4 separate regions of the Homo sapiens genome follow, and all the other regions are linked to region 1. Evidence: fine-mapped expression QTL. A gene starts in region 1. Each other region holds a variant in brackets. All regions are shown on one strand. Distances are from middle to middle.

Evidence for each region. PIP is the estimated chance that this variant, and not a neighbour inherited with it, causes the effect.
Region 2: its variant is the best candidate, but not a certain one, in a credible set for the expression of MAP3K21 in whole blood (INTERVAL, PIP 0.84).
Region 3: its variant is the best candidate, but not a certain one, in a credible set for the expression of MAP3K21 in lung (TOPMed, PIP 0.51).
Region 4: its variant is the best candidate, but not a certain one, in a credible set for the expression of MAP3K21 in monocytes after interferon gamma (Fairfax 2014, PIP 0.70).

Annotation. Positions count from the first base shown.
Region 1 is chr1:233,326,209-233,328,893 of GRCh38, forward strand. MAP3K21 (mitogen-activated protein kinase kinase kinase 21) reads left to right here and starts at 1,516. Exons shown (of 10, transcript NM_032435.3): 1 at 1,516-2,625. The coding sequence starts at 1,821. It also overlaps a transcript of PCNX2 not described here. RefSeq lists silencers at 1,030-1,329, 1,520-1,819, 1,619-1,770, 1,960-2,159.
Region 2 is chr1:233,453,765-233,456,449 of GRCh38, forward strand. No RefSeq gene overlaps it. Among named protein-coding and RNA genes, the nearest start is that of MAP3K21, 130 kb to the left of the region's middle. The variant G/T (reference allele first, on the strand shown) is at 1,390.
Region 3 is chr1:233,357,265-233,359,949 of GRCh38, forward strand. All of the region lies in intron 4 of MAP3K21 (mitogen-activated protein kinase kinase kinase 21), which reads left to right. Among named protein-coding and RNA genes, the nearest start is that of MAP3K21, 31 kb to the left of the region's middle. The variant T/C (reference allele first, on the strand shown) is at 1,608.
Region 4 is chr1:233,366,646-233,369,330 of GRCh38, forward strand. All of the region lies in intron 5 of MAP3K21 (mitogen-activated protein kinase kinase kinase 21), which reads left to right. Among named protein-coding and RNA genes, the nearest start is that of MAP3K21, 40 kb to the left of the region's middle. The variant CA/C (reference allele first, on the strand shown) is at 1,214.

The DNA of each region.
Region 1 (2,685 bases):
GGAAATCAAAAAATTCATGTCACTTGCTTTATTGCAGTGATCTGGAACCATGCTTGCAGTATCTCCAAAGTATGCCCATACTTTAAATAGTTAGATTACTTATAATACCTAATATAATGTAAATGCTCTGTAAATAGTTGTTATGCTGTATTTTATTTGTATTATTTGTATTGTTATTTTTTGGGTTTTTAAAAAACATTTTTGACCAGCTGTTGGTTGATTCTGTGGATGCAGAAGACCCACTGTAAAACTATTAACTCATTTAGTCTTCCTAAAAACCCTATAAAGTAGGTACTATTTATTATATTCCCATTTTATAGATGAGAAAACTGAGTCATAGAGAAATAAAGAAACTTGCTCAAGGTCACACAGCCAATAAATAGTTTGATCTGAGAGACAAAGAAAACTGAAAAGACAATAAATTTATCTTTATGTAACTCAGAATGTTACTGTATGTCCTATCCTCATAATATCTAAAATTGTCCCTTCTGTTATTGGAAGTACAGGATCCACACGTTAGGAAATTCTGGCCTACTACAGGATAATCTAATATTTTAGAATTTTAATAACTAAGCTCTTCTATCTTTTTAGCCTCATCACCTGCCACAGTAACCTACCAACGTCTGGCACCCAGCCATTGCCAATGCTTCCTAAACCCAAACCTGTGGGTTTCCAGGGAGACTGGGGCATTTTCCATCTGAGTAGACAGTAAAAATAAGCAAAGGATTTACCATCATGGAGCTTCTGGGACTATACCGACCACGGGTCACTCTGCGCTGCGATCTGTAACCTAGTCAGTTCTGAGATGCACGGTGGCTCAAACGCACTTAGCATGGTGACTTGCCACTCGCACTGGCCCAGGTCTGGCACCGCGCTACAATTTCTTCTGTAGCCCGTTCTGAGATTCTGTCACTCTCCCTGAACTGCAACTCTCTCTCTCCCCGCCACACCCTAAAGCCCCACATCTTCTCAACCCTCTCCCACCGCTTCTTGGAGAAGCGTCCCCTCCCTCAGTCTTACCTTTGGCTTAATTTAAACTCTCCCGAAAATTTATAGCGGATGACGGCCGATCCCGCCTCCCAGACCATGTGGGCGCGGCTCACCATTGCTCCGGAGCACCTGCGGCGGGGGCGGGGTGGGACCAGCCAGGCGGGCCCAGGGGGCGGGCCCGGCCCAAGGTGGTGGGGGACGGGCCCGGGCGCCAGGGGCGGGACGAGGCTCTGGGGACTGGCACAGAAAAGGGAAGTGAACCTGGCGAGGGCGGGGCGGGATGGTGCAGTTGGTGGGGAAGGGTGGGGCGAACCTAGGAAGGCGGTCCCATAGGGCGGGCGCAGACTGGGCGCCCGGGACGGGTCAAGGAGGGCGGAATGAACCTGGAGAGGGCGGGGCGGCTGGGGGAGGGGCGGGAAGGCCCTGGGGACTGGCCTAGGGGCGGGCCCGGGGGGGTGGGGGGGCGGTGCGGAATGGAGCCGGAGGGGGCGGGGCGGCCCTGGCGCGGCTAGGGTGGGGTGGGGCGTCCCAGGCTCTGGCTAAGGAGCGCGCGGCGGGCGGGCCGGCCGCAGGGCCTGGGCACGACCATGGTGGGACGTCGCCCGCGGCTTCGGGGACCGCTGCGGCAGCAGAGGCGGCTGGCCAGGAACGCGGGCCGAGGCTGGACCCTTTGGGCAGCTAGCCCGTGATCTCTGCCGTCACCGATCGCGATTCCTACCCCCTCGCCTTCCCCCGGCGCCGACGGCCACACCGCCGGACGATGCGCGCCCGCGGCCGCCCGGGAGGCTGAGCCCAGCTTCCCGCTCCGCCTTCCCCGCGCAGCTGCCCCCATGGCTTTGCGGGGCGCCGCGGGAGCGACCGACACCCCGGTGTCCTCGGCCGGGGGAGCCCCCGGCGGCTCAGCGTCCTCGTCGTCCACCTCCTCGGGCGGCTCGGCCTCGGCGGGCGCGGGGCTGTGGGCCGCGCTCTATGACTACGAGGCTCGCGGCGAGGACGAGCTGAGCCTGCGGCGCGGCCAGCTGGTGGAGGTGCTGTCGCAGGACGCCGCCGTGTCGGGCGACGAGGGCTGGTGGGCAGGCCAGGTGCAGCGGCGCCTCGGCATCTTCCCCGCCAACTACGTGGCTCCCTGCCGCCCGGCCGCCAGCCCCGCGCCGCCGCCCTCGCGGCCCAGCTCCCCGGTACACGTCGCCTTCGAGCGGCTGGAGCTGAAGGAGCTCATCGGCGCTGGGGGCTTCGGGCAGGTGTACCGCGCCACCTGGCAGGGCCAGGAGGTGGCCGTGAAGGCGGCGCGCCAGGACCCGGAGCAGGACGCGGCGGCGGCTGCCGAGAGCGTGCGGCGCGAGGCTCGGCTCTTCGCCATGCTGCGGCACCCCAACATCATCGAGCTGCGCGGCGTGTGCCTGCAGCAGCCGCACCTCTGCCTGGTGCTGGAGTTCGCCCGCGGCGGAGCGCTCAACCGAGCGCTGGCCGCTGCCAACGCCGCCCCGGACCCGCGCGCGCCCGGCCCCCGCCGCGCGCGCCGCATCCCTCCGCACGTGCTGGTCAACTGGGCCGTGCAGATAGCGCGGGGCATGCTCTACCTGCATGAGGAGGCCTTCGTGCCCATCCTGCACCGGGACCTCAAGTCCAGCAACAGTAAGTGGGGCCAGAGGGAGGTGGGGGAAGACTACCTCCGTGCCAGCCCAGGCGGGCTCC
Region 2 (2,685 bases), 130 kb after region 1:
AATCAAGCTGCAGCCAGACCACCTTGGGTACATGTTCTGAGGACCTCCCGAGGCTGTGTCATGGGTGTGTCCCCAACCTTGGCAAAATAAACTTCCAAATTGATTGAGACCTGTCTCAGACACTTTTTGGTTTATACTCCTTACTTGTACCAAGTAATAATTATCCTATGGGGCCAGGTGCAGTGGCTCATGCCTGTTATCCCAGCACTTTTGGAGGCCAAGGTGAAAGAATCACTTGAGCCTAGGAGGTCAAGGCTTCAGTGAACTAGTTTGCACCACTGCACTCTAACCTGGGTGACAGAATTAGACCTCCTTTCAAACAAACAAACAAACAATTGATTTAAAAAAACCCTGCATTCTCTTAAGGAGGCATTTGTTACTTGCCAGGCAAATGAACCCCGGTTTTTTTTTTGGGTAACAGAGGGAGTCAATCAAGAGGCTACCAAGCAATGAAGCAGGTTAGGGCTTGGATTGATGGCCAGACAGAATGCAAAGGTTTTGCTTTCCTATTCAACCAGCCTTAGGAGGGGTCTGGAGTCACTGGCTCACTGGCAATCTGGCATTTTGAGGCCTGGGGGAGTTCTGAACTGGGGCAGGCATTGACGATACAGGCCACCTGGTCACAGCGCACCTGAGTGGTGGAAACACGGGGGAAGCCGAGTATCTTTGAGGGAAAGTCAGACATAGAGTGGGTGGCTCAGGACCTGCAGATCCTTACTGAATCCTGACTGATAATTAAAAATGATCATAAATTCTTTGCCATTCCTCCTATGTACAGATGGAACCTCTTGGTCCACCTGTCCATCTGGGCTGGCCCTGTGACCACTGAGACTGACAGAACACAGCACAGGAATGCCGTGTGTGTCTTAAGCTGGGGCCTCGAGAGGCATTGCAGCTTCCCTCTTCCCCTCTTGCAATGCTGTTGCCTCCTGAACAAGGTAGGGAAAATTGTCATCTGTCAATAATCTCCACTGAGATTATCTCCAGGCTGGTCTCCTTGAGGAAGAGAAACCATGTGCAGACAGAAGCCTGTCTCAGCAGAGGCCCCAAACGTGCAGATGAGCCTGGCTCAAATCAAGCAGCAAATCAGTAATTGTCACTAAATTCTGAGTTGGTTAAATCTTTGATACCCTAAATATTTGGAATTGTCTTTTCCGTTTCTGGCCTGGGGGCTGCCACAAGCTCTGCTACTTCTCCCCACCCATAATGTGTTTTAAATCTCTTCCCAGACCCATTGCTGCAGCTGGGGCTCTGATGGTCTGTCTCCCAGCTGCGTCACTGCAACGGCCTCACAACAGGCTTTTGGCTCTAGTCTTGGGGAACAAACTGCAGTTTGCCCCTGCTTCCTGACACCCCTCTTTGAGAAGACTCCCCTTACCCACATGTGGG[G/T]CACAGCCCGTCTGTGCGCTGGAATCTCCCCTGGGCTGGTTCTCAGCAGCACCTTCCCATAAGGTCAGCTGTCACCAGCGTTCCCCATGGACCCAGTCTCTTTTGTTCGAAAGGTCATAGTCTGTATTGCTCTCGCCCCAGGGCTTGGCAGGTAGTAGGTGCTCAACACACACTTATTGGACAAATGAATGGGCTAAGGTTGGCCCTTGCTGCGGGACAGACAGTGATGCCCACATTTTTTTCTGAGGTCCCACTTAGCTGGTTGTAGTCGATTTGTGAAATGCAAGGAAGTGAAAATATGATCTTGTCACATTTTGCTTGTTCTTTGTTAGCGTATTTTTAACAGTGGGAGTTGCCATGTATAAATGGAGCAGGGCAGGGTGCAGCGGCCCAAGCCTGTAATTCCAGCACTTGGAAGATGGGAAGATTGCTGGAGGCCAGGAGTTTGAGACCAGCCTGAGCAACATAGTGAGACACCATCTCTACAAAAAATTTTAAAAATTTGCTGTGTGTGGTAGGGTTCACCTGTACTCCCAGGTATGTGAAAGGCTGAGTCAGGAGGATCCCTTGAGCTCTGCAGTTCAAGGCTGCAGTGAGCTATAATCACTCTACTGCATCCCAGCCTGGGCAACAGAGTGAGAATCTGTCTAAAAAAAAAAAAAAGCAGGTGGGGGGGTGAGGCAAGAAGGCATTTTGGGGAGGAAGTCTTTTTGGCTCTTTTGGGGTCAGCCCTGAGCTTCTCTGGGTGTTCAATTTTGTGGGCTGACATGCTGGTGACTTTGCATGCAGTGCCCTGACTGCCTCGAACCCTCAGTTGTGTTAGAACAGTGTGTGCCTAGACAACCTCACTGTCTCTAACAGCAGAGATGGGAGAGTTGTCTCCACTTAAATGTCGGGTGAAAATGGAGAGAAAAGTGTATCTGCAGATCACACACCACTCCGAGAGGAAAGTACAGAATGAGAGACTTGGCTTCTATCACAAAATAAGTTAGTCTACGTACGTATGTGGGTTTGTATGGAATGTCTTCTAAGTTTTGCTTCACTTTTAACATTGTAAACACCTGTCTACTTCTTTTTTCTTTTCCTCTGCTTCTCCTCCTCTCATCATCCTCCTTCCCCGCTGACTCTTTGTATCTCTGCCCAAATTCTATTTCTTCTGATTCCCCTCAGCACGCAATGGACAGAAAGAATAATTTAGTAAAAACAAACAAAAAACAGGCCAAAATAATTAATTGGTAAAAATAAATATTTTCAGTCATTTTTTCATTCTTTGATAACTCTTATGGATTGTGGAGG
Region 3 (2,685 bases), 31 kb after region 1:
GAGGAGGGAGGGATAGCATTAGGAGATATACCTAATGTAAATGATGAGTTAATGGGTGCAGCACACCAACAGGGCGCATGTATACATATGTAAGAAACCTGCACGTTGTGCACATGTACCCTAGAACTTAAAGTATAATTAAAAAAAAAAGAAAAAATAAAAATAAAAATAAAAAAATAAAGTAGACATACAGGTAATTCACTCTGTCCCTTAGATTTTTCAGTATTTGGTTACATTGAAAAATGCACAACAGGTAAATGCAACGTAAGACCATGACACCACTAATGAGTACTTAGAGTTCATCAAGGAGAGGCACCAATCCCACCTGCCCTGTTCTGCTCAAACCCATGGAGTTGCGTCTGACTGCGAGCATCATGTCCTAAGGAGCCTCCTGGCATGCATGGGAGAGGATGGGGGAGCCTGGGAGTCCAAGAACAGGAAGAACACACAGCACACAAGGGGGTGGGGACTGCTGGGGCTGCCCATGCATGGGGAGGACTTTCAAGTAGGGAGAGAAGAAACCAGTTGCTTGTTATTCCAGAGTTACGCAGTAGGACTTCTGGGTGAATGCTGCAGGGATGGCAATCTGGTCTCCAAGTCAACGACTTGCTAGCACTTGGAGCTGGCTGACAGAGAAATAGACTGCTTGGGTGACTGCCTGTTTCCTTCTCCAGGACAAGACTGAATGGGAAGTCTTTATGGGATTCTGAAAAATATGATAGACCTCCCTCACCCCCCACCAGGAACTCTGAGTCAGACAGCCCTGTTGGCATTCGGGCTCTTGTGCCTGATGGGTTTTTTTTTTTTTTATACTTTAAGTTCTAGGTGTGCCTGATGGTTTTGAGGCCTCTGACTCTGTTACTCTGTACCTCCTCATCATTGGAGCCATCACTGTAACCCTGTGTCCCTCAGGGCTTGGGCGGGGCTTAAGTGAGTCCTGTATGCAAAGCAGCCAGAGCCCTACCTCTTAGTATGTGCTAAATTAAGTGTTAGTCTCAGGAAAAAAAAAGAAAGTGGTGACCTTTCACAGAAGCTGAGTTTCCCTAGCCCAGGCTTTCTTGGAAAACTGGCTGGAGCACCACTGACTGGAATAGGTTTGACATCCTGCAGTTCTGTGAAGCATTACTACCAGTGATATCATTGACATGTTTCTTGGAAACTTTTATGCACTTTGTTGACTTAAAATGATACAGGAAAGACTCTAATTTGTTTTTTTTTTTTTTAACACTTCCCCAAATTGTTTTCAGGAATTCTAAAATTAGGTGTTTAATTACAAAAATGAAAAAGATTTTGAAGAGCAGGAAAAGCGTTTGAGAAAGAAATAAAGCTTCAAATCATAGAATCTAAAATTTGGAAATGATGTTACTCACAATTAGTTACTGGCTGGGTGTGATGGCTTGCAGCTGTAGTCCCAGCACTTTGTTGGGGGCCGAGGTGAGAGGATTGCTTGAGCCTGGTAAGTTGAGGCTGCAGTGAGCTATGACTAAACTGCTGCACTCCAGCCTGGGCGACAGAGCAAGACCCTGTCTCAAAAAAAAAAATTATTATTATTGTTATTATCTGGAGACAGAGTCTCACTCTGTTACCCAGGTTGCAGTGCAGTGGTG[T/C]GGTCTCGGCTCACTGCAACCTCCACCTCCCGAGTTCAAGTGATTCTCCTGCCTCAGCCTCCCGAGTAGCTGGGATTACAGGCGCCCACCACCACACCCGGCTAATTTTTTTTGTATTTTTAGTAGAGACGGGGTTTCACCATGTTGGCCAGGCTGGTCTCAAACTCCAGATCTCAGGTGATCCTCCCACACTGGCCTCCCAAAATGCTGGGATTACAGGCATGAGCCACCAGGCCCGGCCTTATTTTAACGTATTTTAATTATTGACAACTATTTATAAAACTGGAAGATATAGGCATCTCTAGTGAGTTCATAATTATATGTTGTATTAAAATAAAAGCATGCTTCAAGGGTGGATGTCAGCTCTTTCTCTACTTTGCGATTTGTAGTAATTTATTTTTTGGTTGATTTTTGAGCTACCATGTAGTAGTGTCTATTTTTACTTTGTGTTTTATTTTTGTGCATTGTTCCTTGAAATACAGCATTTATGTTACCCTGTAAGCCTTTGGATTTACAATTAAAGAATATATAATGCTTTTTTTTGGCTTCGAAGTTTCCAGCTGCATCTTTTTTGATGAAGTAAAAAGCATAGTGTACGTGCCCTATCTCCCTTTCTTGTCCACAGATTGCTTAAGGTAGGAGGCATCAGACTTGGAATTAATGGTGAGTAACTTGGCTGTGGTCTGTGTTATTCAGTAAGCCGTAGCCTCCGTAGATACTGGGTCCTCCCTAAACTCCTGGCTCCTTATCTCTGTGTGTCTGTATTTGTGCATTTTGTGCATGCACCTGTCTGTGACCCCCCACACAGAGGCATGCCACCGTTAATGATTAACAGCCACTGCCAGGGATCTGGATTTGCCATTACCAGAGTGGCCTGTGCCAAGCAATTCAACAAATATTACTGCTAGTAATCTCATCAACCGAAAGAATGTTTTTGTGCTTCATACTTTTGAAGTATTCAAAGGGTTCTAATACCCCAGTTTTAAAATTTACTTTTGAATGTGTTCAAATTTATTCAGAAGGAAGATTACTTTTGCTGCTTTCTCTTCAATCTTATTTTTTTCTTTTCTGAAGTCTT
Region 4 (2,685 bases), 40 kb after region 1:
TAGAGAATTTCTCCGAAACATATTCTAGAGTCCTCCAAGCTGACCTTTAATATTTGTGCCTGCAGATCTTTCAAAAACTTGGTATTAAATATGAATCATTACATTCTCTTGTAACTTTGTCCTCGAGAATTACTGCTGATCGTTTTTAATCTTATGGGTATTTATAGCTATGGTGATTTAGTGATAGAAACCTCAAAAGTGATTTTTTTTTCCTCCTGGAATTTCTTCATGGCTGGCTACCAAATAAGGAAGATTAATGCTTAAAAAGTAAGACAGTAATAATCTAGGATAATAATTTTAAAACAATACTTTGTGATTATGTAGTATTTTTCTTGGAATTTGCAAGAGAAAAAAGCATGGTCACAGTGCATCTTTTTATTTTGTGAGTACTCTATATTGATTGCTCCTTCTGTTTATGTTTACTTTTAACTGAAGTTGTGTTTTTTGGACACGTTAATACAAGACAAAAGCTTTAAAGCCTCCAAAAGTTGGTATGTCACTAAAGCAGTGGCATTCTAACTTTGATTGCTTCAGAAGTGTCCAAAGCCTGCAAAAACCATCTACCTCACAGGTATGCGAGTGAGTAGAAGGGTGGATGGGAGAGAGCATATAACCTCACCTGGATTCTTTAGAGAATACATTCCTTTTCATCTGCAAATGGAAGCCTCCCACTGAGGCAATTAGCTTTGTTAGTGAAATATTCATATTGCCAGCAAAAATACTAGGATAGGTTTTACTCAAGCCTGTGATTGAACTATAGCTGCTATGACCAGGCATCTTGAGAACCATTATTCTAGTGAGTACAAAGAAAATCTGAGCACAGGCCACAGGCATTTTAACAATTCAGCTTTAGTTTTCCCAAATGTTTAGCTGGCACAGACTCAACCTTTCCCTACTTCAAAGGGACAAGGATGTTTACGATAAAGAATGTTGGCTGGGCGTGGTGGCTCATGCCTGTAATCCCAGCACTTTGAGAGGCCAAGGCAGGCAGATCACCTGAGGTCAGGAATTCGAGACCAGCCTGGCCAACATGGAGAAACCCCATCTCTATTAAAAGTACAAATATTAGATGGGCGTGGTGGCAGGCACCTGTAATCCCAGCTACTCAGGAGGCTGAAGCAGGAGAACTGTTTGAACTCAAGAGGCAAGGTTGCAGTGAGCTGAGATCTCGCCACTGCACTCCAGCCTGGGTGACAGGAGCAAGACTCCGTCT[CA/C]AAAAAAAAAAAAAAAGAATGTTTTCTTTCTGTTTACAACATAAAGTATGCTTTTCAAGTGGAAGTATTTAGGTGTTTTTGGAAGGTTGGAAGCACTCTGAATCTTAGGTGTTGTTAAAATGCAGCCTTGTATCTTTGCTGCTCTCACCCGTGGCTTTCCACGTGTTCCATGTTGGTTTCCTGATCTGTGCTTAGTATTTATTGTCCCATCATTTGTTCCAAATAACTTGTCAATCAGATCCTGTGGCTTGGTTCTTGGCTTTCTTCTGTTATTGACAGGAGGGCTCCTCTTGCTGTAAAAGTTCTCAGAGCATTTGTTTCTGTCGTGTTGTAACAATCAGGTGGCTAGCTGAACATTTATAAATGACTTTAGTCTAAACTGTTTCCTTTCTATGGTTAAGAATTTTTTTTCTTTGACCACCTCTTTCCCCCAACTACCACCACCTAGTCTAGTCAATTTTTTACCTCAACTGCTCTGCCCTGGTCAAGTCTTTCAAAAGGAATGACTTGGGGCTAGGTGCAGTGACTCACGCCTGTCATCCCAAGCACTTTCAGAGGCCAAGGCAGGTGGATTGCTTGAGCCCAGGAGTTCAAGACCAGCCTGGGCAACATGGTGAAACCCCATTTCTACAAAAATATACAAAAATTAGCTGGGCATAGTGGTGCATGCCTGTAGTACCAGCTACTCAGAAGGCTGAGACAGGAAAATTGCTTGAGCCAGGGGAGGTCAAGGCTGCAGTGGACTGAGATTGCACCACTGCACTCCAGCCTGGATAACAGAGTAAAATCTTGTCTTTAAAAAAAAAAAAGTATGACTCAGCAGATGGAGGAGCCTCCCATTTGGTCTTTCCTTTCCGTTTGGTTTGTCTTCCAAATCTCCTCCAGCCTGCTGTGTATTCCTCAGCAACTCACTTCAAGCACCAGCCTGATCCTGTAGATGAACCCTGCATAACTTTCTCCGTCAACAAACACCTGAGGATCTGCTGTGTCCCCAGTACTAGGGGTGATTATAAAACATATATGCAGTCTCTGCACTCATGTTTCCCACAGAGAAAGTACTCATTCAGCAAAGTTTTCTAAGTACCTGTAATGTGCAAGGCACTGTGCCAGTCTGAAGTCATGGAGACTGTCATGGTCACTGCCCATAGAGCACTTACCTTATATTGAGGGAGGGGGCAGAACTTAAGCTAATAATTCAATACTTATTTGCTTCTATAATCATTAGCTGCTGTGAGGGAAAAGTCACATGACAGTGACTAGTGCAGAGATGTAACCTGGTCTAAGGTGATCATAGAAGGCTTCCTAACGGAGTTCGAAACCAGCCTGGGCAACACGGTGAAACCCCGTCTCTAGTAAAATACAAAAAAAAAAAAAAAAAAAATTAGCCAGGTGTGGTGGTGTGCGCCTGTAATCTCAGCTACTCAGGAGGGTGAGGCAGGAGGATTGCTTGAACCCGGGAGGTGGAGGTTGC